Homo sapiens: one gene and its partner. The protein of the gene in region 2 purifies or fractionates together with the protein of the main gene of each other region. This does not show direct contact. Each region holds a gene or a part of one and is shown on either strand. Other genes may lie near its edges. The genes, in order: TRDN and TMEM238.

Evidence for each region.
Region 1: the proteins of TMEM238 (region 2) and TRDN purify together in Homo sapiens (co-immunoprecipitation; one large-scale study listed by IntAct). This does not show direct contact.

What each region holds. Positions count from the first base shown.
Region 1 is NC_000006.12:123,542,917-123,546,745, reverse strand, and holds part of TRDN (triadin), read left to right. Parts: intron 1-3,829. UniProt on the Homo sapiens protein: Contributes to the regulation of lumenal Ca2+ release via the sarcoplasmic reticulum calcium release channels RYR1 and RYR2, a key step in triggering skeletal and heart muscle contraction.
Region 2 is NC_000019.10:55,378,744-55,382,057, forward strand, and holds the end of TMEM238 (transmembrane protein 238), read right to left. Parts: intron 625-3,314; 3' UTR 501-624; downstream 1-500.

The DNA of each region.
Region 1 (3,829 bases), on a different chromosome or scaffold from region 2:
CAACCTGAATGATAAGAACGATAAACCTAGGACAAAGGAGGACAGCAATGGGGCAGGAATTTCAGAAGACAGAGATTTTGACAGGAAGGGGTAGGAACTGCATCTGGAAGGGGCACTGGGGAGCAGGTAGTACCATCTTGAGGTACATTTGTTGTGAGAAAACAGCCAACATTCAAGCCAGACTTAAAACAATTGCAGTGTTTTAGTTACTGCTACACATGGGCAGGCTGTTGAGGGTTTACCCAGGAAGATAACCCTGGCTTCTGTTGCTCTCTCCTAATACCTACTGTGGATTCAAACAATGGGATCCAAACTTACAGTTTCAGCCTTCCCTGAGAAAATGATGACTACCCCACACTATCTGGGGTAAAATCCACTTAGTGTATGTTAAATTAGAAACTTTGGATTTGTAACTTACACAGCAAAAAAGAGCTAAGCCAGTCAAACTCAACTATGGCAAAGGCATCCAGAAATGAAAGTGTTTATAAAGCTCTGTGAGGAGAAAGGAAGGGTTTATACACCTGCAAATCCAGAATGAGAACTCAAGTACTCAAGACAGACTTCAGCCATCAAATCCAGGTTTAGAGATTCTAGATTTGTCTATAAACTTCAAGAGATTTATAGCTGATTTCCCATAGAGAGTGAACATAGTCAAGCTTTAAGTGAGTTATTAGTCATTATCTGGAAATAACAGCTTATGCACGTTTATTTTCATTGGAAATGGAAGAAGGGAAAACAGATAAATAATGTTTGCTCATTTATACTTATAAACTGAATTCCATAAGACTATTATAAAGCCATGTTTTTCATAAATTGATATTTACTATTTAATAAAAAATCTTTTCTTTTGATTTAAATTTTTCTTTGAAATTATTTTAAAATTAAGCTTCATATAGTAATTAGTATAAACTGCAAATTCATACAAAGCTGTTTTACTATTGTTTCTTAAATTATTTCCTTGATTCAGCAAATCAAATTTTTGCCAGAAAAACTATTAAATAGTTGTTTAGGGTACTTTTAAAAAATGTTAGAAATGTTTATTAGTCAAAAATAGTCTAAGGGATATATGTCCTTCAACACATGTGCACTAATGTCCTTAAAGATTACATACTCAGAATTAGGAGAATTGACTTTAAATCACCTGAATATATTTTCTTAATAGTATTATTCACACAGTTACATGAAAAAAATTGACATTTAAGTAAAAATCTCAGATGCTCTATCTTGGGTACAGAGGCTATGTAATAATAAACCTTAGTTGAAAGTGAATTCAAGAAGATCTATTTCATTGTAATTATTATTTTTTATGTGTAAGCTTTTCTTTCATGGAAGTATAGAGGCAATGAGAGCTTTAAAGCAGTAGGTAATATTTTATAAAACATTTATAATACATATTCTACATTTTAAGTATACTTTTAACATTATTATTGGGGAGAAATTCTATAAATTATTCTTGTCTTATAAGTTATTTTACTCATGTTTACATTTACAAATGTTGGTTTAAGAAGGAATTTGGGGGCAATGTAGAATGATAGTCTTTTAAAACATTTGATTTTTACACATCTAAATGACTCTTCATTAATACCCTTCTCAATTCATATATATTCAATAATATTTAGTCATTTTTTATTGCCTAAATTATCAGGCTGTAGCATTTTTTTATTCAACTGCCCTATATCTACCTAAAACATTTTATTTGAATACACTTAGTTTTATTTGTTGAGTTACTGCTATTCTTAACAAAATAAAAATTCAGCCAGTTTGTTATTTATGGTTGAAGTTTGCAGTTTTTAATTTGGTATGGAATAATGGTGTAGTCGACTAATCTCAGGGTTGCAGTATTGATTATTAAACAGATTATTAATATGGATGAAATATTTGATTCTGCTAGCCTGTGGAATCTGTTGTTATATATAAATATAGCTTCAGGGTATTACATGTAGTACCTAGTGTCTTTATATTCTTCATGCATATTTTTCAACTTGTCAAAATTTTAAAATACTAAGTTCTATTACTAAACACTTCATGATGAGACCCCAAGGCACTGAATCTTTAGAAAATACTATATTTTATTACATAGTTGTCTAAAAATTATAAGTATGAAAACCAAATACTGTTATAAATCACATTTTCGGAAAAAATTATTTGTTGTGTATAGTGGTATACTTTGCACATCTGGAAGTGTGCTTTTAAGCAATATTTTTCACACCAGGGTATACATCATGGATCTGTTAGCACCTCACTTTCTAAGGGGTATAAAACTGCAGAGAGATTTAAAGGAATTGAATGTCATTTGAATGTTTTCCTAAAATTGATCTGCTTGAGAGCATGCCCGGTTTATAACCGTACTATTTCCACTTCAAATATAAATAAATCTGTTGTTGGTTCTTTGTGGTATTCAACGTTACTTGGAAGGAGACAAAAAAATTAAGTAACATTGCCCCAATAAGACTGTGTGTGTGTGTGTGTGTGTGTGTGTGTGTGTGTGTGTGTGTGTGTATGTACAGATGTGCATAAGGCTTCTCAATACTTGTATCTTTAAAAGTAAAATATAGGGTTAGATTTATTGATGAACGCTGTCTCATTCTAACTGTAAAATACATTAATCCACAGATAGGTGATTTTAAAGCTCCATTCATTCGATGGCATTCTAAAAAAAATTCATTTTTCAGGTTTAATAATAACTTATGAAGATTTGCAATATATTAACCTTTAGATTCTTAGATTCTTATAGTCTAAAGGTTAATATATTACAGGATGTGAAATCACAGAATATGGAGGAAATTTAAAATTTTCAATATGTACACTTTTTTCCTTAGAGAATCATAATGTAGCTCTTGGGTAAAATTTTCGTGAGAGAGGTGGAATGAAAATATGAATTCAAAGAGAAAAGAGAAAGATGAAAACCTTCCAAATGTTAAGAAATAATTTTTTGATAAATATTTTAAGTTGATAATGACATCTAAAAATATTATAGTGTTTGGAGTCCATCAACTCAGTTTTTAAAAGGGATATGGCAACTTTATTTTTAAATGTCAACATTTACAATAATCTATAAATTATATCACTTGTAATCCTTCAACTTATGATGAAAAATTTTAGAACTTGTAGGAAGGGATGCAGAGTTTTGCAAAATTTCTAAGAAATATAAAAGGGAAAAAATTGAGCATGATTGTAATAGAAAATAAACATTTTGCTTTCTGGGTAACTCCTAGGTTTCTGAGTGAGAGCAAAGCACAGAGGTCTAAGATTCACGACGGTACAATGTATATCCTTAGCTAATCACTAATACAGAATTCGGACATGTTTTATGCCTTCTGGGATTAAACTCAATCAACAAATGTATTTTTTTCAATTAATCTTTTTCAAGTGTTTTCTATGAGCCAAGCAATGAGCTGGTGGAAGAGAACATGTACTATTTGCTTACCACATTCCCAAAGACTAATGATGAACATTTATTAAATAAAATAGTAAATGACAGTAATGGAGTTTTGATGTGGTATTGCTAGCATCAGGATCAATGCAACATGTTATTTTATAGCTTACGTAATTGCAAAGGTGTAAAAGATCACCTTACTTAGTAAAATGTCCTGCAAATACCACAGTTAAAAATTTAATGAATACATGATCAAATAAGGCAGTAAATAAGCTAGAATAGTTGGGGCATTGTATATTTGATAAAGAAGAGGGTAAATCTTTATATGATGTTATTAATAAATTGAACTGAAAGCATATGAAAATGTGAATAATAGTAATGATATCTATTTTTTAGAAATATAAATTTTAATTCCCTTAATTATTCATAAAGACCCAAAGTTAAAGTTAAAAC
Region 2 (3,314 bases):
GGGGTGGGGGTTCCGGGTACAGGTGCCTTCTCGAAGGGCAGGGGCCTCCCTCATGGACGATGACTTCAGCTCCCAGCTCCCCAGGGGCCAGTGGCAATTTTCTTGGAGGTGCGGTACAGTCTAAGACTAGTCCTACCCATCCCTCCCTCCCTCTCCCTGCACCAAGCTACCCTACAAAAGTGTTTCCCCAAGACATATCTTGCAAGTCCAGTTTGTCTCTGTGTCTGCTTCTCAGTGAACCCAAACTCACACAGGGATGTTGGGGCTTAGAGTGGAGGGTCTGGGCTAAGATCCTTATCCCCCGCCCCCTCTCTGGCCCCCTCTGAGAAGGGGCCAGCATAAGGCTAGGCTCCTATATCCCCAGGGCTCCTGGTCTCCCCAGGGCAGGGGCAGCCTCACCTCAGGTGTGGCCAGGCCCACCTGGGTGCTAGAAGGAAGCAAGCCACCTCGTCTCCATTCCCACCCCAGCAGGGTCCCTCTCCCAGACAGACATGCAGCACTAAGGCAAATCTGCTTTTTATCCAAGTGAGGAGGGAGGGGGTACAGGGAGCGTCCGTCTGGCCACGGATGTAGGGGCAGCTGCACATCTCAGTCTGGTCCTGACAGCTGGAGCCAAGGGGTTGTCTGCAGGAGGGAGGGTGGAGTGAGCGACTGCTCAGGAACCCCTCCCATCCCTGTTCCGGGCTCTCTGCCTGCGGGGGCAGAGGCAGGGAGCCCCATCCGCCTGCCCTTGCCGCTCACATGGACTCACACACTTGCTCCTTCATCCCTGCATGCCCCCATTTGCTGAGTGTGTGCATGCGTGTGTACCTTTAACGCCCTGAAATCCAAGGGTAGAGGCCAGGGAATGCGAGCCAGGGAGAGGCAGAAAGGGGGAGACGAAGACATGCAGAAGGGGAAAGGCAGAAGCACAGGGACAAAGAAAGAGACCTGGGAGACAGAGACACAGAGACAAAGAGTGAGAGAGAGGGAGACAGGCAGACACAGTGAAGACAGAAGGAGGCCGGGCATCGTGGTCCTCATCTCAGACCCTCACCCCAGCATTTTGGCTGCAGGCAGGAGGATCACTTGAGCCCAGGAGTTTGACACCAGCCTGGGTAACATAGGAAGACCCCGTCTCTGGTACCTGTAGTCCCAGTTCCTTGGGAGGCTGAGGTGGGAGGATTGCTTGAGCCCAGGAGGTGGAGGCTGCAGTGAGCTGTGATTGCACCACTGCTCTCCAGCCTGAACAACAGAGTGATGGGGGTGGCTCTGCCCGGCTACTCATGGTGGTCTCGGAGGTTGTGGGGGTACCAGAGCCAGAACCTGTGGGTCCCTCTGCTAAAATTCAGGTTCTCTGTCTTTCATGCGCTGGAAGCTGCTCACTCTCCCCAGTAAACAAGAGTCCTGGGTTTGAACAGGCCCATTTTCCTCTAAGTGGGGCCTACGTTCGAGTCAGTGTGGTCTGAGTCTTTGGTGGAGGCTCCAAGAGTGGAGGCCTGTGCAGCTGTGTTAGACGTTTAAGCTACGTAAAGGATTCTCCTCTCCTCCCCTCCCCTCCCCTCCCCCCTTCCCCCCTCCCCTCCCCCCTTGCCCGTCCCCTCCCCCTTCCCCCTTCCCCCTCCCCTCCCTTCCCCCCTTCCCTCCCTGCTTCCCCCTCCCCTCCCCCTTCCCCCCTCCTCCCCTCCCCTCCCCTCCTCTCCTCTCCTTTTCTTTTTTTGAGATGGAGTCTTGCTCTGTTGCCCAAGCTGGAGTGCAGTGGCACGATCTTGGTTCACTGCAACCTCCGCCTCCCAGATTCAAGTGATTCTCCTGCCTCAGCCTCCCTAGTAGCTGGGATTACAGGCGTCCGCCACCATGCCTGGCTAATTTTTGTATTTTTAGTAGAGACAGGGTTTCACCATGGTTGCCAGGTTGGTCTCGAACTCCTGACCTCAGGTGATCCACCCGCCTCGGCCTCCCAAAGTGCTGGGATTACAGGCATGAGCCACCATGCCCAACCTCATAAAGGATGTTCTTTTCTTTCTTTTTTTGAGACGGGTTCTCACTCTGTCACTCAGGCTGGAGTGCAGTGGCGTGATCTTGGCTCACTGCAGCCTTTGCCTCCCAGGTTCAAGCAAGCAATTCTCCCACCTCGGCCTCCCAAAGTGCTGGGATTACAGGCATGAGCCACTGTGCTCAGCCAGGATTTCCAAAGGTAACAGTAACTACAGGTGCTTATGTTTGCATTCTATGCCAAGCTTCATGTTAGCTTACGCTTCACCCGTGCAAGCAGATGTTCATGCTTTCTTACCCCAGTTCCTTCACTGAATCACGGCACGTAGCATATGATTGGGGTGACTATTTCCCCAAATCTCACAAAGAATAATATATAACTGGTAGCATTCTGGATGCATAGGAGAAAAGTTAATTCCAGCCGGGCACGGTGGTTCACGCCTGTAATCCCAGCACTTTGGGTGGCCGAGGTGGGCGGATCACCCGAGATCGGGAGTTTGAGACCAGCCTGACCAACATGGAGAAACCCCGTCTCTACTAAAAATACAAAATTAGCCAGGTGTGGGGGTGCATGCCTGTAATCCCAGCTACTCGGGAAGCTGAGGCAAGAGAATTGCTTGAACGCGGGAGGCAGAGGTTGCAGTGAGCCGAGATTGCGCCACTGCACTCCAGCCTGGACAACAAGAGTGTAACTCCATCTCAAAAAAAAAAAAAAAAAAAAAAAAAGTTAATTATTTACCTACATAGAACGTCCTAGGATAATAGGGTTTAATTCTTTTACCAAAACCCTATTTGAGAGATGAATTCAGTCACCCAACCATCCATGTGCCATTAAATGCATTCATCCACTCATCTGTGTACTTATCATTCAGCCCCAACCATCTATTCAACTACCCATTCACCCATCTACCTATCTATCCAGAGAGCGCACAGAGGCTGGGCAAACTCTGACTGTCCTATGGATAGTCCTATGGACCAGCCGAGGCCCCTGCCCCAAGGAGTTCCCAGGTGTAACCGCAAGTTAAGGTGCCCTGGGGAGGTGACACAGGCACCCTCATTTCTTTTGTTCAGTAGGAGTCTCTGAGGCCTCCCCAGTACCATGCTGCATGGGTGAGGCCGAGGACACAGAGAAGTATCAGGAAAAGCTCTTGCCCCTTTATCAGGCAGGGCTCCCTCTCCAACCATATCCATTCATGGTTCATTGCCCAATTCACCACCTACCCATATCTACCCATTAAACAACCCATCCATCCGTCAATCCAACCACATCCCTGCATCAACCAACCCATGTATTCACCCATCCACCCACCCACCCATCTGTCCATTCACCCGTCCATCCA